2 separate regions of the Homo sapiens genome follow, and region 2 is linked to region 1. The links come from fine-mapping of genetic effects on gene expression. A gene starts in region 1. The other region holds a variant in brackets. All regions are shown on one strand. Distances are from middle to middle. Region 1 holds the start of CMTM7 (CKLF like MARVEL transmembrane domain containing 7). Region 2 has its middle 39 kb from the start of CMTM6.

The links. PIP is the estimated chance that this variant, and not a neighbour inherited with it, causes the effect.
Region 2: its variant is fine-mapped to the expression of CMTM7 in whole blood (INTERVAL, PIP above 0.99).

What each region holds. Positions count from the first base shown.
Region 1 is chr3:32,385,390-32,401,098 of GRCh38, forward strand. CMTM7 (CKLF like MARVEL transmembrane domain containing 7) reads left to right here and starts at 6,464. Exons shown (of 5, transcript NM_138410.4): 1 at 6,464-6,676. The coding sequence starts at 6,518. RefSeq lists an enhancer at 15,592-15,709.
Region 2 is chr3:32,458,366-32,470,220 of GRCh38, forward strand. No RefSeq gene overlaps it. Among named protein-coding and RNA genes, the nearest start is that of CMTM6, 39 kb to the right of the region's middle. RefSeq lists enhancers at 1-53, 1,650-2,360 and silencers at 2,752-3,046, 9,322-9,391, 9,982-10,091. The variant T/A (reference allele first, on the strand shown) is at 4,569.

The DNA.
Region 1 (15,709 bases):
TATGGTTATGGAAATGGCAACGTACAGGAGTCCCTCAGCCCTCAGATAATGAAGCCTCATTGTTCGATACATAAGGACTTAGGAAAAATGATAAAATAGGTAACATTTACTACTATGAGCCAGATGCTACTCTAGACCGTTTCCATATGTCTTATCCCATTTAGATCTCGCAGTTACCCTGAGGGGTCATTTCTATTGTTGTTCCTCTTTACAGAGAAGGAAATGGAGGCTGAGAGAGGCTTGCCCAAGGTTGCACATCTAGCAAGTGATGGAACTAAGGGCCAAACCCAGGCAGTTTGGTTCCAGAGTCCTGCCTCTCAGCCACACAGCCAGGCAGCACAAAGACAAAGGTTTCAGGGTCCCACCTGGCGCTAAAGACCAGGTATCCTGGCTGGCCCCGCTGTGGTGAGTACATGCCGCTCTCCCTCTGCTGGGCCTCAGCCACTCTCTTCTGCTCTGCCTCTCCTTATTTCCTCTCATGGCCCAACCAGCCTCCTGGCTTCCACCTTCTCTCTATGTCCCAATTGCTAAACCCCTCTCAATGCCTCACATTCAAACTCCGCAGGACAGAGGATCATCAGTGGAGCTCCCACTCTTACTAGGCAAAGTTCCCTTATAAGGCCACTCCAAACACTACTGGCCAACCCACTGATGGGCTGCCCTTGGCTCAGGAGCCAGCCTGATGCAATAAATTTCCAATGGATATAAGGCAGCTGATTGGTGATTCTCAGAAGGACCTGAGAGTTTGACTGGTTTACGGAACCTAATAAACTTTTTAAAAATTCACTGGAGGCCAGGCGCGGTGGCTCACACCTGTAATCCCAGCACTTTGGGAGGCCGAGGCGGACGGATCACAAGGTCAGGAGATTGAGACCATCCTGGCTAACACGGTGAAACCCCGTCTCTACTAAAAATTCAAAAAATTAGCTGGGCATGGTGTCGGGTGCCTGTAGTCCCAGCTACTCAGGAGGCTGAGGCAGGAGAATGGCATGAACCCAGGAGGCGGAGCTTGCAGTGAGGCGAGATCGCGCCACTGCACTCCAGCTTGGGCGACAGAGTGAGACTCCATCTCAAAAATAAATAAATAAATAAATAAATAAATAAATAAATAAACAAACAAATAAAGAAATTCACTGGAAAAGGATTTTAAAGGCTGATATTGGAAGAGTTTCATGGACACCTGATGCCTTTGTCTGCCTGGCATAGCTCAGACTTCCTAACAAAATGCCATGGCCAGGTGGCTTAAACACCAGAAATTTATTTTCTCAGAGTTCTAGAGTCTGGGGAGTACAAGATCAAGGTGCTGATCGATTTGGTTCCTGTTGAGGGCTCTCTTCCTAGCTTGCAGAAAGCTACCTTCTCGTTGTATTCTCACATGGTGGAGAGAATGCCAGCAGGTTCTCTGGTGTCTTTTTTATAAGGACACCAATCCCCCCCTGAGGGCCCCACCCTCATGATCTCACCTAAGTCTAACTATTGCCCACAGGCCCCATCTCCAAATGTCATCACATTGGGCGTTAAGTCTTCAACTTTTAAATGATGGGGGGACACAAACATTCAGTGCATAACACTGCCTAATATTCACTCCGCTTTCTGATACTCGCACCCTGGTTTTCCTTTTGGGAACCACCCCTTCCTCACTCAGCTCCTGTGGTTCTACTGGGCTGAACCTATCCCACCCCCAGCTTCATGGGTAGGTAGAACTTGACCTGGCCACCAAAAATGTTCCACTCCTCTGGCCATAGTAATTCGTTGAAAGATGGAACCATGACCCATATTTGGACTAATGAGAGATAGTGCCTATTATGGACTGAATTGTGTGTCCTCCCTGCCCCAAATACATAGGTGGCAGCCTTACCCCCAAGTGTGACTGTATTTGGAGATGGACTCTTTGGGGAGATAATATGGTTAAATGAGGTCATAAGAGTGGGGCCAGAATCCAATAGGACTGGTGTCCCTTTAGGAAGAGACACCAGAGATCTCTCTCTCTCTTTCCATGTACACAGAGAAAAGGCCATGTGTGGACACAGCAAGAAGGTGGCCATCTAAAGTCATGAAGAGAGGCCTCACCAGAAACCAGCCCTGATGGCAACTGGATTTTGAACTTCTAGTCTCCAGAATTGTGAGAAGTGAATTCTTGTTGAGAAGCCACCCAGTATGTGATATTTTGTTATGGCAGCCTAAGACAGTACCAGAGCCACTGGAAAAGACAGGCTGAAATAACGAAGGCAGGATTATTGTGTAAGCCTGAGCTGTCAGAGCTCATGAGAGGGCCTGCCTGAAAAGCCAACACAGAGCAGAGTGAAGCCAGGAGATGGAGGTCCTGACTGTGCCTGAGGAGCACCTGGATCCAGCCATGCCTGAAGTGGGTGTATACCTCTGCATATCACAGTTACTCAAGCCAATGAATTATTTTGTTTTGCTTTTTATTAGTTTGTTTGTTTGTTTTTGAGACAAGGTCTCACTCTGTTGCCCAGGCTGGAGTGTAGTGGCACGATTATGGCTCACTGTAACATTGAACTCTTGGGCTCAAGTGATCTTCCCCCCGCTCAGCTTCTTAAGTTGCTTGGACTACACATCTGGCCAATTTTTTCATTTTTTGTAGAGATGGGGGTCTCACTATGCTGCCCAGGCTGGTCACAAAATCCTGGCCTCAAATGATCCTCCTGCCTCGGCCTTCCAAAATATTGGGATTATAGGCATGAGCCACCGTGCCAAGCCTATTTTGTTTTTTGTTTTGTTTTGTTTTTAAAGACAGGGTCTTGCTATGTTGCCCAGGCTGGCCTGGAACTTCAGGGCTCAAGAAATCTTCCTACCCCAGTCTCCTGAGTAGCTGGGACTACAGGCATGCACCACTGCTCCCAGCTTGAATGAACTCTTCTTTTTGCTTGATTTTAGTTTGTCTCATCAAAAGCACTGTGACTAATACAGAGTCAACTCTAATTTTATTACTTTTTTCATTATATCTGATCAGATATAACATCATAAACACACTGGTGAAGAAGAGTTATAGTCAGAGTACCACTCGAATTGAAGCTTTAAACTGTCAATAAGCCACCTGCAATCCCTCGGTGTAGAGAAAAGGAGAACTTGGACATCTTGATTTCTCACCAGGTATTCAGAGGTCACCTACCTGGTTGGTTCCCTCTTAGAGTGTGACATCTTTAAAGTGGGCTATGAAGCCCTTTGCCTAAGACCTTGCTTTCCCAAGGGGCAGCTATTCACATCTAGCAGACAACACACTAGTGTAGACATCTCAGTGCACTTGGCAAGCCTCTGAAGCCTCTTCTTGTAAGTCAGGCCAGCAATGGCCCTTGCACTGGCAAGCATCTTGCTCAAGCTCTTAAGTGATCATAATAAAGTGATTAACACAGAGTGCCCAGCACAGTGATTACTTCTGATTAGAGGTGGGTGGTGCATTAGTCAACACCAGGCAGAAAAGCCCAGCAATGTTTCTGAGCAGACTCAGGAAGAGATAGTTGTTCTCAAACTTGAGTATGCATCAGAATCACAGAATGATGGTGAAGGGGGGTGGGGAGTGAGGGTGGGGTTGGGAAGACTTGTTAAGACACACACTGCTGAGCCCTACCCCTAGAGTTTCTGATTCAGCAGGTCAGAGTGGGCCCCTAGAATCTGCATTTCTCACAAGTTCGCAGGTACTGCTGGTTGGGGGGCTATACACTGAAAATCACTGTTAGAAGACTGCTGAATTGGACAAAGGCCCCTCAAAGGAGAAATGATCCAGCACTTGGTTTTTCTGCTTCCCTGAAACCCTCATCTCAACAAAGATGCCCTGTTATCTCCACTGTGGGTCCTGAAGCCTTAGACAAGTACAGAAGTGAAATGTACATCTACATAAAAAAATGATACACAGTACTAACTTCATGCCTGTGGGTATAGAGCCAGAAATGTCACAGCACACCTGCATATCTATCACATTGTCACAGCAGCCCCTAGATGCAATTATTCCTGAATTACAGAGAAACAAATGGAGGTACCAGGCAGCTGTGACTGTTGTCTACAGAGAAGACACACGTGGAAGGCAATTTTTCTTGGTCATGAAAATTGTCAAATGTACATAAAGGTGAAATAAATAGTGTAATAAATCCCCAAATGTTTCAACTGCAGTGGACTCTGGCAATGACAGTGGTTCTCAAATTTGAGTGTGCATCAGAATCACCTAAGAGACTTGCCAAAACAGATATTGCATGGGTATCATCCACCAACAAGAATTATTAGGACTTTGCCACATCGAAAACTCTTCTGATGACAAGACAGCACTGGCAGGGAATAAACTCACAAAGATAGTTTTATGTTTCACTTTGCTTTGTTTTGTTCTTGAGGCAGGGTCTTGCTCTGTCACCCAGCCTGGAGTACAGTGTTGTAATCATGACTCACTGCAGCTTCAACCTCCCGGGCTCAAGCAATCCTCCCACCTCAGCCTCCTGAGTAGCTGGGACTACAGGCATGTGCCACCATGCCCAGTTAATTTTTGTATTTTTTTGTAGAGATGGGGTTTCTCCATGTTGCCCTTGCTGGTGTCAAACTTGGGCTTGTGAGCTTGATTTTGGGATTACAGACATGAGCCACCGTGCCCAGCCAGATTTTTTGATGTTATCTCCAAATGAATAAATGTAAGTATGGCCACAGGGACACTGCTCAAAAGGAACATGATAACATACCTCGTTTTGGTAGTCCCGTTTGGGCCTGTCTTCATTTTTATGTTTTTTTCCTTTTCTTTTTCTTTTTCTTTTTTTAAGAGACAGTGTCTCACTCTGTCACCCAGACAAGAGTGCGGTGGCAAGATCATAGCTCACTGCAATCTCGGACTCCTGGCCTCCAGGGATCTTCATGCCTTGACTTCCCAAAGTGCTGGGATTATAGGTGTGAGCCACCACGCCTGGCCTCTTCATTTTTAAAACAACCCAAAAGGGATACAGAATAGAATGTCACTTGGATAGCTGTTTGACAGCTTTTTCTTTTTCTTGTCTTTTTTTTTTTTTTTAATTGAGACAAGGTCTTGCTCTGTGGCCCAGGCTGGAGTGCAATGCCACTGTCATGGCTCACTGCAGCCTCAACCTCCTGGGCTCCAAGGCTCCTCCAGACTCAGCCTCCTGAACAGGCATGTGCCACTGCACCCAGCTAATTTATTTATTTATTTATTTTTATTTTTATTTTTATTTTGAGACAGAGTCTCGCTCTGTCGCCCAGGCTCGAATGCAGTGGCGCAAGCTCTGCTCACTGCAAGCTCCGCCTCCCGGGTTCACGCCATTCTCAGCATCCCGAGTAGCTGTGACTGCAGGCGCCCGCCACCACGCCCAGCTAATTTTTTGTATTTTTAGTAGAGACGGGGTTTCACCGTGTTAGCCAGAATGGTCTCGATCTCCTGACCTCGTGATCCGCCCGCCTCGGCCTCCCAAAGTGCTGGAATTACAGGCGTGAGCCACCGCGCCCGGCCCAGCTAATTTATTTTTATTTTTTGTTTTTTGTAGAAATGAGGTCTGGCCATGTTCCCCAGGCTGACAGCTTCTAACAGAAGCAAACATATGCTCCCCTTGTAACCAGTGCGTTCACTTGCAGATATTTGTCCCAGAGAAATGAGAGTTTGTATCCACCAAAAAAACGTGTACCATAATAGTGACTATAGCCAGAAAAGAGATGAGGGAGGGGGGAAAGGCCGGAAGGAGGGAAGGAGGCAGGCAAGCAGGTAGGAAGGAAGCAAGCTTGGTGTCCATCAACTGGGTAAACGTTTAAAAAATACGGTATCTTTGCACAGTGGAGTACTACTCAGCAATAAAAAGGAAGGAACTGATATGAACTACTTATATTCCCAACAGGATGGATCTTCTAATTTGTTATGTTGAAGGAGAATATTCTGTATTACTTCAAGTTTATGAAGTCCAAGAACAGGCAAAATGAACCTACAGTGACAGAAAGCAGAATACACTGTAGTGGTTGCCTGAGGCTGGATAAGGATGGGGCCAGGGAAGGAAGGTAGGTCAGGAAGGCCCACCACGGAACTTTCTGGGGTGATGGGCACGTTCTATTTGTTGATCTGGGCGACGGTTACACAGGTGTACACATATATAAAAATTAGTGGAGCTGAACACGTAAGGTCTGGGCATCACACTTTATGTAAGTTAAACTTCAGTAAAGTGCTCTCAGCACACATCCGCAGCCGCACCCACACAAAATCCCAGGAGGCTCAGTACCAGCTGTGGTCCGGGCCTTGCCCACCTCGGAGAGGCCACGACCCAAGGCATCCGGTTTCCTCTCGCTCCAGTCTAACTTCCGCGCATCTACGAGGGCCGGGACTGCCGCTACCTTTCTGGAAGGCGCCGGCCGGCCAGTCACCGGAGGGATCCCGCCAGAGGCGGCTCCGCGTCTCCAGCAGCGGGGCAGGGACCCGGGCGCCCCGCCCTCGCCAGCGCCCGCCCCCGCCCGCCCCCGGCCCGCCCTCTGTATCTGGCCCCTGGGCAGCTGCCCGGGGAGGCGGCCAGCGAGCTGGGGCCGCGCAATGTCGCACGGAGCCGGGCTCGTCCGCACCACGTGCAGCAGCGGCAGCGCGCTCGGACCCGGGGCCGGCGCGGCCCAGCCCAGCGCGAGCCCCTTGGAGGGGCTGCTGGACCTCAGCTACCCCCGCACCCACGCGGCCCTGCTGAAAGTGGCGCAAATGGTAAGTGAGCGCGGGGCGCGAGGCCGAGGTTCTACAGGGCGTCCCGGGAAAGCAGGGGTCCGGGAGCGGACGCGCCGGGCGTCTGGACCCGGCCGGAGCCCAGGGAGCATCGCGCAGCGGGCGGGGCACCGCGTCGCTAAAGTTCGCGGCAGGCTTCCTCCGGGAAAGTTGCTGCCGCAGCCCCCGCGCTGGAGCTCAGTCCCCAGAGCCGCCCCGGCCCTTGCTCCCGCGGACCCAGGTCGCCAGGGTCGCAAGTTTCTCCGGCCACCCCCCTGCGAAGCCTGACCCGCCTACTGACTGAAACCACGGGCAAAGTTCCTTTTCGTCTTTCTTCCTCTTCTCTGGGCCGCGCCGCTTCGAACCCGAGCCGGGGGTGGAAGAGTCGCCCAGGCGGCGGCGCTGAGGGAGCGAAACCCGACCTCTTCCCCGTCCACGGCCTCCTCTTTCCTCCGAACCCAGCGCGGCAGGGCTTCCCTGCTCTGTGTGCAGTTTCGCTCGAAGGAGGAGGTCAGAGGGTCTTGTGTTCCATAGTGGGGAAAAAGAACTGGGACCGTTGAGACGGCCGTCCTGGTCCCCTGCGCCCTCAAGTTCCGAGGGAGGGCCCGGGTCTCAGGGGGCTCTGGAGGGCAGGGGGTCAGTTGGGAAAGGCCTGTTGTCAGGGGCTGGTACTCATGTAGGGGAGCCAGACTGTTGAATGGGAGTCACCCGTGGAGCCAGGCAGGATGAGTGTCTGGGCTTGGATTGTGACCAACTCAGCACAAGGGCCTCCTACCAGGGCAGACGTTGCCTGGCCGATTCTCTTGTTCCCCACTCTTTTCTTTTCTCCCCTCCCGTTTTTTTCTTCTTTAAAAGTTTGTAATCTGAAACAACTTTTCCGTTTGTATGATGTGTTTTGAAACTGGGTTGGGCTGTTTGTGAGTCTCCACCATTGTAATGTTTGCACCAAGAACGGTGGGGAGGGGAGCGGTAAGTTTCAAAAAGAGGTGTGGGGAAAGGAGTGTGGGGCTGGACAAGGTCACACACCCAGAAGCTGGGGCCTGCTAAGGTGGCCTGGCCCCAGGGGGTTGGGCACAGGACGTCTGTGCATCTATAGCACTGCCATTCCAGACACTGAGTGTGCATGAGGTGGCCCTCATGTCTTGCTTGGGCCAGACCTAAAGAGAAGGGGCGCTGAGTTCCTGCCTCCCTAAGAACGGTGTCTAGATAGACCAAAAACTAGGAAGAGCCATTTCAGCAACGTACAAAAAAATCTGGTGCTGAGCATTGTTGGGTTTGAGCAGGGCATTTTTTGGCCCAGGCTAAGAGATTTGATCAGCCAAATAGAAGAGACCAGCCCATCTCACCATCCTTAAAAGATGGGCTGGGGTGAGACATATCCTACCTGAGCATTGGAAGGGATGAGTTTGGTAGACAGAGAATGGGATCAGAAGCCTCCATCTTGGCCCCTGAGTTTGCTGGACAAAGATATTGTGGGATGAAAAGTCTTCTTGTTGGTCTATGAGTTTGGTACACAAACATAATGGAGATGAAACCTCGGCAACATAGCGAGACCCCATCTCTACAAAAAAAATTTTAAAACCTTGTGTGGTTGGCATGGGCCTCTAGTCCCAGTTACTTGGGAGGCTGAGGTGAGAGGATTGATTGAACTGAGAAGGTCAGTGAACTGTGCCACTGCACTAGTCTGCGTGACGGAGGGAGGCCTGTCTCAAAAAAAAAAAAAAAAAAAGGTACAAAGAAAAGGTAATGGAGATGAGAAGCCTTCATGTGGTCCATGATTTTGATGAATAAAGATACTGGGAGATGAGAAATCTCCATCTCATCTTAAGCTCCTCAGCTAGCCTCTGGCCTGTGGTCCTTGGGCCAATTTGCAAGTGGCAAGAGTGGGGCCTGTTGTTCCAAAAAAGAGAACAAAGACTTGAATAATTTCTTTATCTGGTTGCTTATTCTCTATGTGCTCCTCTTAAAACCATGCTGAGGAGTCTTACACCTGCCCTGGAGGATTCCCCATCACTGCTGCAGGCTTGTTTGATCAGACCCTCTGGGAGCAAAGTTGCCCTTGCAGGATGGCTGTATTAGTCCTAGTTAGGGCTATCTACTTGGGCCTCTTATCTAACTCCTCCCTATTTTCCCACTTCTCCTCTTTTCTAAGACTCTGCTTGGGCATTTGAGGTTCATTTGTCTTCTTTGCTGGAAAATGCTTGTTTAGCCAAGTTTTAACATTGGGGAAGGGCAGAAGCAGCTAAATTAATGCCACCCATTGGGGCTTTCTTTCTATGGGTCTCTCATTTTGACCATCAGTTTCTCAGTTTCATACTGAACAGGTTGACCCTTTTGTCCTCAGCTTCTCATGAAATGTTTTCATCATGATCTGATCAATAGATCTGCCAACACGTTGTCTTAAGAAATCATTGCAAAGGCTGTTCCACTGGAGAATGACTTCCCTTGTCTTGGCCTCTTCTGGGTCCACCATTACTAGAAAATGAGTTTCTGAGTGAATGTGTGTACTTGACATGTCATTTATACATGTGTAATTTTTATAATCCTCTGGCCATGATAATTCAGTTTCTTTGGTCTTCCTTTTTGGAGTAGAGACACAGTCACAGGTTTTGACTTTTGACTTTAAAGCACTCTTTTTTTTCTTTCTTTCTTGAGAGGGAGTCTTGCTCTGTCACCAGGCTGGAGTGCAGTGGAACGATCTCAGCTCACTGCAACCTCTGCCTCCCGAGTTCAATCAAATCTCCTGTCTCAGCCTCACGAGTAGCTGGGACTACAGGCACGTGCCACCACACCCAGCTAATTTTTGTATTTTTAGTAGAGATGGGGTTTCACCATGTTGGCCAGGATGGTCTTGATCTCTTGACCTCATGATCCGCCCCCGCCTCTGCCTCCCAAAGCGCTGGTATTACAGGTGTGAGCTGCCGCGCTCGGCTAAATGACTTTTTTTTTTTTGAGCGAGACAGAGAGGGTCTTGCTCTGTCACCCAGGCTGGAGGACAGTGGTGTTATCATGGCTTACTGCAGCCTTAACCTCCTGGGCTCGGCGATTGTCCCACCTCAGCCTCCCGAGTAGCTGGGACTATAGGCACCCACCACGATGCCCAGCTAAATTTTGTATTTTTTGATACAGACGGGGTTTTGCTATGTTGCCCAGACTGGTCTTGAACTTAGAGATTCAAGGGATCTGTCCACCTCGGCCTCCCCAAGTGCTGGGATTACAGGTGAGCCACTGCGCCTGCATGAGACTCTTTTTTTTAATAGCTATTTTTTTTTAGCCCTATTATTGTTCTAGTAATTACATACTATATACCATGTGTGTATAATCTCATTAAATGTTTCTAAGAATCCAGTGAAGTAACATGTTTGATAGATAAGGAAACGGGCTAAAGAGTTAAAGAGACACTAAAGTCACACAGCTCTTAGCAGTAGTGGTGGAACCGATCCAGGCCTAATGGCCTGATCTCCAAAACTCATAACTCTGGCAGAGTTGTTGCTTGTTAATAGTTCTAGGGATATAAAAGCCACAGTGAGATAACACTTCACACCCACGGAGATGACAACAATAGAAAACAACAAGTGATGAAGATGTGGAGGATGTGAAGAAATTGGAACTCTGATACAGTGCTGATGAGAATGCAAAATGGTACAGCCACTTTGGGAAACTGTGCAGTTTCTCAAAAGTTACCATGTGACCCAGCAATTCTACTCCCAGCTCTACCCAAGAAAATGAAAACAGATGTCCACATGAAGACTTACACATTCATATGTGTTCATAACAGCATTATTCATAATAACCAGAAAATGAAAACAACACAGTTGCCCATCAAATGATGAATGTATAAACAGCAACTAAAACTAAGTGCTACATTCATACAATTGAATATTATTCAGTCATAAAAAGGGAGAATGAAGTACTGATGCGTGTAACCATATAGATAACCATGAAAACACTAAGCTGTGAAAAAAAGCCAACCACAAAAGACCACATTATATGATTCCATTTATATGAAATGTCCAGAATAGGCAAATGCGTAGACACAAAAATAGATTAGTGGTTGCCTAGGTCAGGGAGCAGGGGTTGAAAGGAAATGGGACGTGACTGCTGTAAGGGGTATGGGGTTTCTTTAGGGGGTGATGAAAATGTTCAAAAAATTGGTGATGGTGCCAGGTGCGGTGGGTCATGCCTGTAATCCCAGCACTTTGGGAGGCTGAGGTGGGTGGATCACCTGAGGTCAGGAGTTCGAGACCAGCCTGGCCAATATGGTGAAGCCCTGTCTCTACTAAAAAATACAAAAATTAGCTGGATGTGGTGGCAGGTGCCTGTAATCCCAGCTACTGGGGAAGCTGAGGCAGGAGAATTGCTTGAATCCAGGAGGCAGAGGTTGCAGTGAGCTGAGATTGCGTGACTGTACTCTAACCTGGGTGACACAGCGAGACTCCGTCACAAAAACAACAACAACAACAACAAAATTGGTGATGGTGATGTTGCACAACTCTGTGAATATATTAAAAACCACCGAGATTTATACTTTAAATAAGTAACTGGTTGGTATGTAATTATGTAAGTAGACCTGTGGATGAGTGTGAGGGGGCAAGGTGCTCTGCATGCAGCCACTGGGTGTGGGGAGGCTACAGCTACACTTCAGGAAATCCCTGTGGTGTTCCCACCACATCCACTCCTAGAAGAAGGAGTGTCCCCTGCAGGAGTCACAAAAGCTGGGCTGAAAGGCATCCCCTGAGTGCCTGAAGGGTCTGAGCTGAAAGGGATGCCCTGGGGTCTGAAGGGGTCTAGATATCCTTGCTGTGGGATTAAGGAGACCCCAGGATGGGGCTTGTGGCCCTACCAACACGTCCTATCTATTTGTTCATTCAGCAGACATTTATAACTGCCACATTCATCTCCATTTGTGCAGAATCAGATGACTGTGACAAAGTTCTTGCCCTCAAGTAATCTGTGGTTCAGCTTGTCATGGGAAGAGGGGTCTTGTCCCAGACCCCAAGAGACAGTTCTTGGATCTCGTGCAGAAAAAACTTCAGGGCAAGTTGTAGAGTATAGTGAAGTCAAAGTAGTTTACTAGACGCCACTCAATTACAGAGTAGAGACTCTTCAGAAAGCAAGAGGAGGAACGCACCCATTGCAAATACAATGCTTGCTTATATAGGTTATTAAAAATAGTGTACTTTATTACAAAAGCTTGCGATCAGCTTGTGACAAGCTATTAATATTGTTACTTTCCTATGTGATTATTGATTTTAGCAAGAACTTATGAGTGTACCATTATTTTAAAAGCAGAACCTATTCTTAAACTAAGAATACTTTTTCTTCTTGAAGAACTGGGACATTTCCGTAAGTTCTGGGTCTTTATTTAGTTAGTTAATATTATTAACTCGGGCCGGGTGTGGTGGCTCACGCCTGTAATCCCAGCACTTTGGGAGGCTGAGGTGGGCGGATCACGAGGTCAGGAGATCGAGACCATCCTGGCTAACATGGTGAAACCCCATCTCTACTAAAAATACAAAATATTAGCCAGGCGTGGTGGCACACGCCTGTAGTCCCAGCTACTCGGGAGGCTGAGGCAGGGGAATCTCTTGAACCCGGGAGGCAGAGGTTGCGGTGAGCCGAGATCGCAGCATTGCACTCCAGCCTGGCAACAAAGTGAGACTCTGTCTCAAAAAAAAAAAAAAATTATTAACTCATTCCCTCAACCATAAACATCATGTGACCAAGACTGCCCAACCCCCTGGGAATGTAATCCAGCAGATTTGGCTTTCTCTCGGCCTTTATTCAAGATGGAGTCACTCTGGTTAGGATGCCTCTGACAAGCTGAGGGGATGAACAAGTACCAAAATTGGCTGCTCAGGAAGGTAAACGTTCTGATAGTTGCCCACCTTATGGAAGAGGATCAGAGGGCAAAGGTGATATTTAAATTGCATCTTGACAGATGAGTGTAAGTTTTCAGGTTGGGAGTGGCTCATTTACCCCTTTGGTGCCTTTATTCAATATATGTTTAAGTTAGAGATAAGTGGTATGTTAGGGTTGGGAAGGAAAAAGATGTAGCAAGAAATGAGCCAGAATTGGGGTAATTATCTTAATCTTCCCACCCCAGACATTTAGAAATGGGTGCCATCTTATCCACTGAGCATCTGCTATGCTGTTAATCTTACGCTATGTGAAATACAGCTATTAACAGGATAGACTCTTTCTGCCTGTGCAGAAAAACAGACTGTGACGTTTACATAACCATAACATGGACAGAGAATCAGAATGTATTTCACAAGCGGCAATGATGGAAATCTAAATATCTTCTGGGAGGTTCATTTATTTATTTGGCAAATATTTGTTGATCACCTACTGTGATCAGCTAACTAGTAGGTGATCACGACTGTGTGCTAGGGAACTGTGGAAAGAAGACAGATGAGCCCCTGCCTCTTTATACTCAAATAGAGAAAATAAACATTAATCAAAATGGTTATGAATATGTAATTACAAACAGGTTCGAAATTATGAAGGAGAAGTACTCAGTGGTATAGAGCATATACTAGGGAGTGTGACCTTTTGGGGATTAGGAAGGGTGTTTCTGAGGAAGGGACATCTGATGTGAGCATGAGGAAATTGCATCACAAGCAGAAGAAAGAGCGTTGGCCGGCGCAGTGGCTCATGCCTGTAATCTCAGCAGTTTGGGAGGCCGAGGCGGGCGGATGGCTTGAGCCCAGGAGTTTGAGACCATCCTGGGCAACATGGTGAAACCCGGTCTCTACAAAAAAATACAAAAATTAGATGGGTGTGGTAGCACGTGCCTGTAGTCCCAGCTACTCGGGAGGTTGAGATGGGAGGATCTCTTGGAGGTCTAGGCTGCAGTGAGTGGTGATCGCCACGGCACTCCATACAGCCTAGGTGACAGAACAAGACCCTGTCCTCCCATCCCCCCAAAAAGAAAAGAAAGAGCACGGACCCTGGCTGTTAGTGGAGGGAGGAGTATCTCTAGGGCTGGAGGGGAGAGAACAGGGTGGGAGTATTGGGGATGAGACTGGAGGTATGCAGGGACCAGACTCCAGGGTCTGCCAAATCTTGGTGAATATATAGTCCTTAGTCTAAGAAAAATCAGCAAAGCATCATATCAACTCACCATTCATGAGGTGACTCTTAACTAGGGGCTGTACCGCCCCCTAGGGGTTATTTTGGAATTTTATGGAACCTTTTGTTTTTTTTTTTTTTTGGTTGTCACAGGGATTAGGGTTATATTACATATACATCTTATTCATTTCAGAATAGTAATGCAAACTGGAATTTTGACAGTGCAATTTTGACAGTGCAAAATACTTTATATCCTAAAAGGATGTTTTGTCTGAAATAAGATTGAAGGAGCCTTCCCAGACTGGGTGCTGGGGGGAGTACACTAAGGTTTCTTGGCAGGAGAGCGGGTCCTGGAGACCCTCTAAGAGGCCTGGGCAATTCCAGGCTTCACTTTGAGAATTCACAGGTTAGGTGCCAAGTGGAATTCAGCTGTGGGGGATGTCAGCCTCTGGTCTAGCTGTGAATAGACCTGTTAGCACAGAATAGCCCAGCATCATCCAGAAGGGCCCATCCCTTTATGTTCTGCTTTAGATGTGTATGGCGGAGGGCGAGGAGGGGGTCTAGTTTGGTTCCCAAGTGCAGTCTGCACACCCATGTCCTACTTCCTGGAAGTTGGAGAGTAAAAAGCAGCAAAGAACCTCACTGCCAAGATTCTTTGACCTCAGCCCATTCCTGACAAGAAACTACTGTCAGTGACCAAACAAATGCAAAAATAAAATATAATAAAATAAGTTATTGGCTTTATTCCTAACAAAAGTAATACTTGTTCATTGTGGAAACTTTGGGGAGCACAAGAAGAAAATAGACTCACCCACTCCCTCTTCCCCAAGATTAAAAAGTAAAACTAAAGTATTTTATAGTAGATACACATAATTTTGGTGGTGGTTTGTTTTTCTTTTTTAATTGAGACAGAGTCTCAGTTGCCCAGGTTGGAGTGCAGTGGTGCGGTTTCAGCTCACTGCAACCTCTGCCTCCCAGGACCAAGCGATTTTCCTGCCTTAGCCTCCCAAGTAGCTGGGATTACAGCCATGTGCCACCACACCCGGCTAATTTTTGTATTTTTAGTAGAGACGGGGTTTCTCCATGTTGGCCAGGCTGGTCTCAAACCCCTGACCTCAGGTGATCCACCTGCCTTGGCCTCGCAAAGTGCTAGGATTACAGGCGGGAGCCACCTTGCCCGGCTGGTGGTGTTTTTCTTTAAACAAAACTAGGATGATTCTATACATATTTTGTAAATGCTTTTCTTTTTTTTTCTTCTTCTTCTTTTTTTTTTTTTTTTGAGGTGGAGTCTCACTCTGTTGCCCAGGCTGGAGTGCAGTGGCGCGGGCTCACTGCAACCTCCACCTCCCGGGTTCAAGTGATTCCCCTGCCTTAGCCTCCCGAGTAGCTGGGACTACAGATATGTGCCACCATGCCCAGCTAATTATTGTATTTTTAGTAGAGACGGGGTTTCACCGTGTTAGCCAGGATGGTCTTAATCTCCTGACTTCGTGATCCACCTGCCTCGGCCTCCCAAAGTGCTGGGATTACAGGTGTGACCCACCATGCCTGGCTGTAAATGCTTTTCTTGCTGTTTGTTTAGTATGTGGTGCATTTTGTTCGTCTGCAGTTTGGTTTCTAACAGTGCTGTCATAGCCAGTCATGGAGGTACCCTGGTTGTGTGTACCATGGTACACTGTGGCTCTGGGAGCTTCCAGTTCTACCTGCATACAAAGGAGGCTGTGATGAACCTCCATGTAGAGAATCCTGGTGTACAAATCTGTAAATACTTCTTCAGGATAATTGGCACTGACCTTTTCCAGAGAGAGAAATGAAGTGTCTCTTGCCCTTCTTAGGTGGCTGGCATAAAACAATTCTCTAGACTTTTTAACATCTAGAAATTAATGAGTGCCCCTTTATCATCCAAGAGTTTCAAGGAGCCAAGTGTGATAGTAATAGTATTTAAGCTGTAATCATATTTTT
Region 2 (11,855 bases), 71 kb after region 1:
GTATGATACAGATGAAACCCGAGGACATTATGCCAAGTGAAATAAGCCAGACATGGACAGACAGATACTGCGTGATTCCACTTACAGGAGGTACCTAGGGTGGTCAAAATCACGGAGACAAAATCTAGAAGGGCGGTTGCCAGGGCCAGGGGAAGGGGGAATGGGAGTTATTATTTAATGGGTACAGTTTCAGTTTGGGAAGATGAAAAATTCTGGAGATGGATGGCCATGGTGGTTCTGCAACAGTATGAATGAATGCACTTAATGCTACTGAACTGTACATCTAAAAATAGTTAAGATGGTCAATTTTATTTATTTTACCATAATTTTTTTTTTTCTTGAGACGGAGTCTTGCTCTGTCACCCAGGCTGGAGTGCAGTGGCGCGATCTAGGCTCACTGCAAGCTTTGCCTCCCAGGTTCAAGCCATTCTCCTGCCTCAGCCTCCTGAGTAGCTGGGACTACAGGCACCTGCCACCACGCCCAACTAATTTTTTTTGTATTTTTAGTAGAGACGGGGTTTCACCATGTTAGCCAGGATGGTCTCGATCTCCTGACCTCGTGATCCACGCGCCTCGGCTTCCCAAAGTGCTGGGATTACAGGCGTGAGCCACCGCGCCTGGCCACCATAATTTTTTAAAAAGCAATTCAGGGCCAGGTTCAGCAGTTCATGCCTATAATCTCAGCACTTTGCGGGGCTGAGGCAGGCAGATCACCTGAGGTCGGGAGTTCAAGACCAGCCTGGCCAACATGGTGAAACCCCATCTGTACTAAAAACACAAAAATTAACTGGGCATGGTGGCGCACGCCTGTAGTCCCAGCTACTCAGGAGGCTGAGGCACGAGAATTCCTTGATCCTGGGAGGTGGAGGTTGCAGTAAGCCAAGATCACAGCACCACACTCCAGCCTGGACAACAGAGCAAGATTCTGTCTAAAAAAAAAAAAAAAGAAAAAAAAGAAAAGAAAAAGTCAATTCAGGACCTATGTCTAGGCACCTCAGTAGCTGAAAGAGCAAAAATTACACCAACCCAAAATGGCAACCCACAGCCCAACAGTGGCCACCCCATGTTCTAACAGCTAAGCATTATGGGTCCTGGAGAACACAGCTGTAGGGTATGTTTGTCTTCTCTAATCCAGGCTCTCTGGGAGCTGTTCAACCCAGGGGCCTTGTGGAACCCAAACTGTGTACCCACCACCCCTGCTCCCAGAGCAGTTACAGCCAGGTGGATCCAAGCAAAGATGTGAGAGGAGGGAAGGATGCACCCATGGGGGAGGAGCAGGGAGCCAGGGGAGCCATCCTGGCAACCTGAGGCCCCAGGAAAGGGTGTTGGCACCGGTGGCCGCAAGGGGCACTGGGAGATGAGGCCGACGGCCATCTGCTCACATCCCCCACCACAACCAGCCCGTTCCCTGGCCTTGCTCTTGGGGAGGTAGGGAGGAAGGCTGAGGGGGGGTGCCATCCCTTGGGCACACCTCTGCCAGGTTTTCTCATTACCCACAAGAGTGGCAGAAAACTGTTGCTCAGCCAGGCTCTGGAAGACTACAGCATCTGTGGGGTTTTCTGTAATAGGGAGGCCCGTGGCAATAGAACCCCCAATCTTTGAGGACAGTGTAGCGGGGAGACCGGAGGAGAAAGCCAAGTGGAAGGGAGATTAGTGATGGAGCCCGGTGAAGACGCCCAGGCCTGGCTGTCTTCTGGGCGTGGCCTAGGACCACCCCACTGCGGGCTGCTGGGATGACAGGGCAGGGCCAGAGCTGGATGTCTGCAGACGGACCCAGAGGGAGAACAAGTGTGTTCCTGAAGGAGGCCCCCTTAACCCCGGCCTGAGGCACCCCCTGTGCCACTGCCCTGTGCTGAGCTCAGCCTGGCTTCCAGCCAGGCCACTGAAGAGGCCCCAGGTAGGGGAAGACAGACCCAGAGCTGGCCCATTCTCTGGGCCACCCACCTGCAAGCCTCTACACTAGCATGAAAAGCAAACTTCTGTTGCCATGGAAACACAGCAGGTCTTTGGGGCCCCTCCTCAGCAACCACCACTTCCCTCCTTTGTGGCAGTTTCTGAACTGCATCCTGTGAACTCTCAGAGGTGCTTCAGACTCACAGATACCCGATTTTATGAGTAAAATATATGCAAACACTTAAAACACTCTCCAGCCTTCAATAGCAAACACGGACACTGGGAGCCCCTCGGCCTCCATGCCGTCTGCCCAGGGTAACTCAGCTCGTGCAGCCGCCGTCAGTGCAAGGCCACCCAGAGTGTGAAGCAAGCTGCTAAAAACCCCGCCACCACCTCACTGGGCAAGCCTGGGCTCCTCCATCCTGCGCAACCCAGATGCAGCAGCAGAACAAATCTGACCGTGAAGCTGCAGCTGCAGTTATCTCCTTACTTATCCAAATTGTGGGCTTTCCAAATTAATCCCATTGTTCCTATGCACTGACTTTATAATAAGTAAATGTTATCAATGTAAATTAGTCATTGATATTCATACCATATTTCCCATTTGACATAATGGAGTTTCATGCATAATTTAGATTGAAAAGGGGGATTTCTCTCCTGAAAAAAAAGTGTGGAAACTTTCATGAGTGTCCGTGTGAAGAGACCACCAAACAGGCTTTGTGTGAGCAATAAAGCTTTTAATCACCTGAGTGCAGGCGGGCTGAGTCCGAAAAGAGTCAGCAAAGGGAGATAGGGGTGGGGCCGTTTTATAAGATTTGGGTAGTTAAAGGAAAATTACAGTCAAAGGGGGGTTGTTCTCTGATGGGCAGGAGTGGGGGTCACAAGGTGCTCAGTAGGGGAGCTTTTGAGCCAGGATGAGCCAGGAGAAGGAATTTCTCAAGATAATGTCATCAGTTAAGGCAGGAACAGGCCGTTTTCACTTTTGCGGTGGAATGTCATCAGTTAAGGCAGGAACAGGCCATTTTCACTTTTGTGGTGGAATGTCATCAGTTAAGGCAGGAACTGGCCATCTGGGATATGATGGCTTAGCTTGGGCTCAGAGGCCTGACATTCCTGTCTTCTTATATTAATAAGAAAAATAAAACGAAATAGTGGTAAAGTGTTGGGATGGCGAAAATTTTGGGGGATGGTATGGAGAGATAATGGGCTGCTTCGAGCGGGATTAGGGGTGGTGTGGGGACCTAGAGTGGGAGAGATTAAGCTGAAGGAAGATTTTGTGGTAAGGGGCGATATTGTGGGACTGTTAGAAGAAACATTTGTCATTTAGAATTATTGGTGATGGCCTGGATACAGTTTTGTATGAATTGGAAAACTAAACAGAATAAGAGAAGGAGAAAAACAGGTATTAAAGGTCTAAGAATTGGGAGGACCTAGGACATTTAATTAGAGAGTGCCTAAAGAGATTCAGCATAGTCCTGCCAGCAAAGATTATTTATTTACTTTAAGAGTTAAGAGTGGCAGTTTGGGGATAGCACCAGGAGATATCAGCTGTGATGGCTTGGAGAAACAGTGTAAACTGCCAGTGTAAACAAGAGCAGGGCATGTATGAGTAGTTGAGAACGGTGAATAGGAGTATGACTAGACAGAACATAGTAGGGATGACAAGTTTTTTGGGGCACAGTCTAAGTTGGTCTGGTGTCTGGAATGAGACTGGGGCCTAATAAAAAGGAGCGTCTAAACAGGAGCTTAAATGGGCTGTACTTTGTAGCATTCCGAGGACAAGCCTGAATTCTGAGAAGGGAAAGTGGTAAAAGTATGGTCTAGTCTTTTTTAAGTTGGTGGCTGAGCTTGGTGAGGTGTGTTTTTAAAAGACCTTTAGTCCGTTTACCTTTCCTGAAGACTGAGGACTGTAAGGGAGATAAAGGTTTCACTGAATACTAAGAGCCTGAAAAAATGCTTGGCTGATTTGACTAATAAAGGCCGGTCTGCTATCGGACTGTATAGAGGTGGGAAGGCTAAACCAAGGAATTATGTCTGACAGAAAGGAAGAAATGACCGCAGTGGCCTTCTCAGACCTTGTAGGAAAGGCCTCTACATATCCAGTGAAAGTGTCTACCTAGACTAAGAGATACTTTCGTTTTCTGACTCGGGGCATGTGAGTAAAGTCAACTTGCCAGTCCTGGGCAGGGACAAATCCTTGAGCTTGATGTGTAGGGAAGGGAGGGGGCCTGAACAATCCCTGAGGGGTAGTAGAATAGCAGATGGAACACTGAGAAGTGATCTCCTTGAGGATAGATTTCCAGGATGGAAAGGAAATGAGAGGTTCTAAGAGACGGGCTAGCGGCTTGTAACCTACATGGAAGAGGTTATGAAATGACGACAGAATAGAATGGGCCTGTGAGGCTGGAAGGAGATATTTTCCTTGGTCTAAGAACTATTTGCCTTGTGTGGGAAGAGATTGATAGGTGGAAGTTTCAGCAGGGGAGTAGGTGGGAGTGACTGAGGGGAAGGAGAAAAAGTGAAAGTGAGGGATATAAGTTGGAATGCTAGCTGCTTTTTTAGCTATCTTATCAGCATAAGCATTGTCCTGAGCGATGGGATCTGATGCCCTTTGATGGCCTTTGCAGTGAATGACTCTAGCTTCCTTTGGAAGTAAAGCAGCTTTGAGAAGCATT[T/A]TTATTAAAGAGGCATTAATGATAGAGGACATTTGTGTAGTGAGGAAACCTCTTGCATGGAGGTGCAGGATATGGAAGGCATATTTAGAGTCAGTATAAATATTGACATTTAGTCCTTTTGCAGGAGTGAGGGCTTGACTTAAGGCAATGAGTTCGGCTTGCTGAGAGGTAGTGGAGGGGGAAAGAGCGGTAGCCTCAATGATAGATGTGGAAGATACTATAGCATAGCCTGCCTTTGCTGGTGAGTGGAGATTAGGCTTGGTGGAACTGCCATCAATAAGCTAAGTGTGTTCAGGGTGAGGAACATGAAAGAAAGAAATGTGGGGAAATGGGGTGAACGTCAGGTGGATCAGAGAGAGGCAGTCATGAGGGTCAGGTGTGGTATCCGGAATAATGTGGGAGACTCAACAAAGAGTGAGTACAGCTGAAGGAGCCGGGAAGCAGACAGTATATGTGTCAGGTGTGAGGAAGAAAATAGATTTTGGAAGTTATGAGAACTGTAGAGAGTGAGTTGAGCATAGTTTGTGATTTTAAGGGCCTCTAAAAGTATTAGGGCAGTGGTAGCCGCCATACGCAGACTTGAGGGCTAGGCTAAAACAGTAAGGTCAAGTTGTTTGGATAAAAAGGCTACAGGGTGCGGTCCTGGTCCTTGTGTAAGAATTCTGACCGCACTAAGCATGCCTAGGAAGGAAAGGAGTTGTTGTTTTGTAAGGGATTGAGGTTTGGGAGATTAGTCAGATACGATCAGCAGGGAGAGCACGTGTGTTTTTATGAGAATTATGCCCAGATAGGTAACAGATGGGGATGAAATTTGGGCTTGACTGAAGTAATGGGACCTGTCTGTGAAGCCTTGCGGCAGTACAGCCCAGGTAATTTGCTGAGCCTAATGAGTGTCAGGGTCAGTCCAAGTGAAAGCGAAGAGAGGCTGGGATGAAGGGTGCAAAGGAATAGTAAAGAAAGCGTGTTTGAGATCCAGAACAGAATAATGGGTAGTAGAGGGAGATATTGAGGATAGGAGAGTATATGGGTTTGGCACCACAGGATGGGTAGGCAAAACAATTTGGTTGATAAGGCTCAGATCCTGAACTAACCTGTAAGGCTTGTCTGGTTCGAGGACAGGTGAAATGGGGGAATTGTAAGTAGAGTTTATAGGCTTTAAAAGGCCATGCTGTAGCAGGCGAGTGATAACAGGCTTTAATCTTTTTAAAGCATGCTGTGGGATGGGATATTGGCATTGAGCGGGGTAAGGGTGATTAGGTTTTAATGAGATGGTAAGGGGTCCATGATCGGTCACCAAGGAGGGAGTAGAGGTATATTATACTTGTGGGTTAAGGTGGGGGGATACAAGAGGAGGACGCAAAGGAGGCTTTGGATTGGGAAGAAGGGCAGCAATGAGATGTAGCCTTAGTCCAGGAATAGTCAGGGAAGCAGATAGTTTAGTTAAAGTGTCTCGGCCTAATAAGGGAACTGGGCAGGTGGGGATAACTAAAAAGGAGTGCTTAAAAGAGTATTGTCTAAGTTGGCACCAGATTTGAGGAGTTTTAAGAGGTTTAGAAGCTTGACTGTCAATACCTACAACAGTTATGGAGGCAAGAGAAACAGGCCCTTGAAAAGAAGGTAATGTGGAGTGGGTAGCCTCCGTATTAAGAAGGGGACGGACTTACTCTCCACTGTGAGAGTTACTTAGAGCGTCTGTGATGGTCCTGTAAGCTTCTGAGGCAATCAGGCGGTGTCAGTCTTCAGCTGCTAAGCCGAGAAGATCTGGGAAGGAGTCAGAGAGCCTTCAGCCAGAGTTCCAGGGGCTCTGGGAGTGGCTGCCAGGTGAGTTGAACAGTCCGATTTCCAGTGGGGTCCTGCACAGATGGGACACGGCTTAGGAGGAATCCTGGGCTGCGGGCATTCCTTGGCCTGGTGGCCAGATTTCTGGCACTTGTAGCAAGCTCCTGGGGGAGGCAGTTCTGGATGTACACCTAGCCACTGCGGTTCAGGCGTTTGGAAGTTCTTGTGTGCTGGAGATGTGGCTGGAGTTTGTCTCACAGTGGAGGCAAGGAATTGCAACTCGGAAATATGTTGCTACTTGGCTGCCTCTACTCTATTATTGTACACCTTGAAGGCAAGGTTAAGTAAGTCCTGTTGTGGGGTTTGAGGGCCGGAATTTAATTTTTGGAGCTTTATTTAATGTTGGGAGCAGATTGGGTAATACAATGTATATTGAGAATAAGACGGCCTTTTGACCTTTTAGGATCTAGGGCTATAAAGCATCTCAGGGTTGCTGCCGAACGAGCCATGAACTGGGCTGGGTTTTTATATTTGATGAAGAAGAGCCTAAACGCTCTCTGATTTGGGATAAAGAAAAAGGAGCATTAACCTTGACTATGCCTTTAGCTCCAGCCACTTTTCTAAGAGTAAATTGCTGGGCAGGTTGGGGAGGGCTAGTCACGGAACGAAACTATAAGCTGGACTGGGTGTGAGGAGGGGAGGGGATAAAAGGATTATAGGGTGGAGGAGCGGAGGCTGAGGAAGAATTGAGACCTCGCTTGGCCTGGTGAGGGGAGAGGTCAGATGGGTCTGTAGAAAAGGAAGATTAGACAGACTCAGCGACGCTTGGGGTTGGGACTGGGGACAGGTGGGAGGGAAAGAAGGAAGATTTGGGACGAGTCACATTGGGAACAGAGACTAGGGAGGGACCGATGTGTAAAAGAATGCCTGGACATCAGGCACCTCAGACCATTTGCCTATTTTACGACAAGAATTATTTAGATCTTGTAGGATGGAAAAATTGAAAGTGCCGTTTTCCGGCTATTTGGAACTACTGTCGAGTTTGTATTGGGGTCAAGCGGCATTGCAGAAGAAAATAAGGCATTTAGGTTTTAGGTCAGGAGTGAGTTGAAGAGGTTTTAAGTTCTTAAGAACACGGGCTAAGGGAGAAGAAGGAGGAATGGAAGGTGGAAGCTTGCCCATAGTGAAGGAGGCAAGCCCAGAGAAAGGAGAGTAGAGACACGGAGAAGGGGTGGGGGATTCTTACCCTCCAGAAAAGTGGAAAAGGGGTCAGGGCACGGAAAAAAGGGATGGGGCACAGAGATAAGAGGTTGGGGTTCTTGTCCCTCCTCCAGGAAAGTGGGACTTGCCTCAAAGGGTGAAGGACCAAGGCAGGCGTCCCTGCGTGGTCTGACACCTCTGAAACGTGGGTGAATAATCAGGCGTCCCTGCAATGATTAAACACCAAGGGAAGGCTGCCTTCCCAGTCCATGACCGGCGCCAGAGTTTTAGGTCCATAGATAAAACGTGTCTCCTTTGTCTCTACCAGAAAATGAAAAGAATTGAAATTAAGAGAAGGCAGAGATTGAAGTGTGGCATCAAGATTGAGAGGAGAAAGGTTGAGGAATAGTGAGGGAGGTTGGAGAAGAGAGTAAAAAGAGGCTGCTTACCTGATTTAAAATTGGTGAGATGTTCCTTGGGCTGGTGGGTCTGAGGACCTGAGGTCATAGGTGGATCTTTTTCACGGAGCAAAGAGCAGGAGGACAGGGGATTGATCTCCCAAGGGAGGTCCCCCGATCCGAGTCACAGCACCAAATTTCATGTGCGTCCGTGTGAAGAGACCACCAAACAGGCTTTGTGTGAGCAATAAAGCTTTTAATCACCTGGGTGCAGGCGGGCTGAGTCCGAAAAGGGAGTCAGCGAAGGAAGATGGGGTGGGGCCGTTTTATAAGATTTGGGTAGGTAAAGGAAAATTACAGTCAAAGGGGGGTTCTCTGGCGGGCAGGAGTGGGGGTCACAAGGTGCTCAGTAGGGGAGCTTTTGAGCCAGGATGAGCCAGGAGAAGGAATTTCTCAAGATAATATCATCAGTTAAGGCAGGAACAGGCCATTTTCACTTCTTTTGTGGTGGAATGTCATCAGTTAAGGCAGGAACTGGCCATCTGGATGTGTACGTGCAGGTCACAGGGGATATGATGGCTTAGCTTGGGCTTAGAGGCCTGACAGAAACCACTGACATAAAGGGAGATGCCAGGAACCACTGGGCACCAGGTGGATGGAAAGGGCCCAGGTTGGAGGAGGGCTGGGGAGACAACTGGTGGACTGTTTGGGTTTTATTGCCATATTCTGTGTACATAAAAAACAACATAGGCCGGGTGCGGTGGCTCACGCCTGTAATCTCAGCACTTTGGGAGGCTGAAGCGGGCAGATCACCTGAGGTCGGGAGTTCAAGACCTCAAGACCAGCCTGACCAACATGGTGAAACCCTGTCTCTACTAAAAATACAAAATTAGCTGGGCGTGGTAGTGCATGCCTGTAATCCCAGCTACTCGGGAGGCTGAGGCAGGAGAATCACTTGAACCCAGGAGGCGGAGAGGTTGTGATGAGGCGAGATTGCACCATTGCACTCCAGCCTGGGCAAAAAGAGCGAAACTCCTTCTCAAAAAAATAAAATAAAAATAAAATAAAAAATACTCCACGTAGAGTTATGCAAAAAAGGAAATGTTACCACAGCATGAAGTGTGCCGCTTGGCTCAGTTGTGAATAGTGATAACAGCCAGAATAATGGTCACGCGGAATACTGATTTAACCGAAACTGTGACAAACCTCATCAGCCGGGCAGGGATGCGTGTGGAGCGAGCCGCTGGCCAAGTGCTGCCAGATGCCCCAAGTGACCCAGAGAAATGGTCATCTGGATTTCCACGCTAAACATTTCCCGATTTTTAAATGCTGCCAAGTATCTTTTCAAAGATACACTTCAGGCCAAACACACCTGCTGGGGGCTAGCTGAAGCAGCCAGCCCCAGTTTGCGATCCTGCCCAGGAGGGCCCTCAAGCGCTTGCCCCAGGGTCTTGGCAGTTCTCCGGAAAGTCGGGGCCCCGCCGGTCTGGCAGATGCTTCCTAGCGAACCCAGGGGCAGCGCGCTGGGCGGAGGCCCTCCCTGGGGAGCCCCCGGGGTCCCCGGCCAACAGCTGTGCCTGCTGCCACACCTCCCAGCTGGACACAGCTCTCCTGTAGCGAAAACAAAACCCACCAAGCAGGTGGCTGCAGGAGCCCGCGCGCAACGCGCCCGCTCCTGGCCGCGCACGCCCCCTGGCGGCCATCGGGAAGCATCGCCGCCGCGTTCCTTGGGGAGAGCCACGCCTCTGGGAAAGCTAAGAACTGTTCACATTAGAAGCATCCACTTGCACGGTTTTTTTGTTGCTGTTTTTTGGGGGGTTTTGTTGTTGTTGTTTTGTGGGTTTCTTTTTCTTTTTGAGACAGAGTCTAACTCTGTCACCCAGGCTGGAGTCCAGTGGCGGCACGATCTCGGCTCACTGCAACCTCCAACTCCCAGGTTCAAGCAATTCTCTTGCCTCAGCCTACCCAGTAGCTGGGATTACAGGCGCCCACCGCCACGCCCGGCTAATTTTTGTATTTTAGTAGAGACGGGGTTTCACCATGTTGGCCAGGCTGGTCTCAAACTCCTGACCTCATGATCCGCCCACCTCGGCCTCTCAAAGTGCTAGGATTACAGGCGTGAGCCACCGCGCCCGGCCTGCACGTTTTATTTGAACCTCAGGTACACAGATTAATCATCATCCTGAGTTCATAACACTCTTACACTCTAATCATGGTCCATGCATGGCCTCCTTCCTCCCTCCTTCCCTATTTTTTGTTTATAGTCAGCACTGAAGCTAGTCGTGACAACCTGCATTCAACTGTAACAATATGCTTCTTCAGTTCATCACCCTCCCATCTTTTTCCTCCCAAGGTAACCTCCCAAATCCCCCATTGATCACGGGCTTGCATTTCTTGTAATCTTGGTAGTTTATAATTAAATGGAAAAGATACCACACTGTATGTAATCTTTCAGGACTTTATTCACTTACCATTATGCAACATGTTACATCCTCTTGGCCTCACCTATCCCTTGATCCAGCCACCACTGCAGTGCTAGCCCTGCAAGGCCTACGACCATGTCATGCCAGCATAACCTGATAGCTGTGATTTGGGCCTTCAACTGTCACCTTGGCGCTTTCCTGTGGACACTGCCATGGGACCTGCTCAGCGGCCACACAGTGCAACTTGCAAGTGCTGCAGGGGAATTCACTCCCTGTGAGGTAACACTGACCAATGGGACACAGGAACCAGTGCGTGCATTCTTCCTCCTCCTCTCCTGGACCAGACCACCCTGAGGCACATTTTACACAGCTTCTCAGAGGACAGTCCTGTGGAATCGAGCAACCAATCACACAGTGGTGGCTAACTCAGTAATATCCTCATATTGGCTCACTCTCCTTCCCTGGTTCACTCATGATGATGGCTCAGCGGGCCACGTGGATACAAGCTGAAAATGTGTGCTGGCTGCACTAATAGTGTTATTTCAGGGGTAGCCTTGAAAGACAGCAGTGAAAGGAAACACTCCCAATGGGCAAAGCTCTGGGCAGTGCATCTGATCATCCGCTGGAAAGAAAATATACAGACTCAGGGAGTGGTGAACGGCTTGGCTGATTGGCCAGGGGACTGGAAAGAGAAAGACCGCAAGGCCCCAGAGGGATGAGTGAGACAAAACGAGTCTTCAGCCACTAAACTTCTCAAACAAGCAAGTCATTTGAACAAGAGGTGGATTTCTTACAAAATGCAAACTCTGAGTAATGAGGCCACTGCATATCAGAAAAAAAGCCCAGAAAAAAACCTGCATAATACATGTTATGACTGAAAGCCAGGTATGGATGGAATGAAAGGGACAGGCAGAGCTGGACTAGCTAGGGGGCTGTAAGGGTGCTCAGAACAGCAGATGACCTGATACAAAACCTGGAGTGGATGTCACAGTTCCTGTGGAGCAAAGATCTAAGTCTCAGCTGATACAACTCAGTCTGGGGCAAACGACAGCAGAGGGACAAGACTTAGATGTGGGGTTGCATCCCCAGATTCATTCCTACCCAGGAGGAAGTCCCAAATATTCCTAAACTTACTACATACTTGCTGTGGTTTTGTGAGGTGGTGTGTTGTGTGTGTGTGTGTGTCTGTGTGTGTGTGTGTTTGCCTGGATTGTGCTTCTCTTTTGCAAGAACCTGTTCACTGGATACATTTATTGTGACCCCTGTTGGTGACTCATATCAGGAGCAGTCAGATGCATGCCCAAGAATGGTGTTTACTCATAAAGCTTGCCAAGCATAACATTTGAAACAATGCCTCTTTCTGGGAGAAGAAAAAGTATTTGGTCTTCTCACACAGGTTTTATACCAACAGAGGTGCTATACAGCGCTTTCTTTTTTTGAGATGGAGTTCCGCTTTTATTGCCCAGCTGGAGTGCAATGGCGTGATC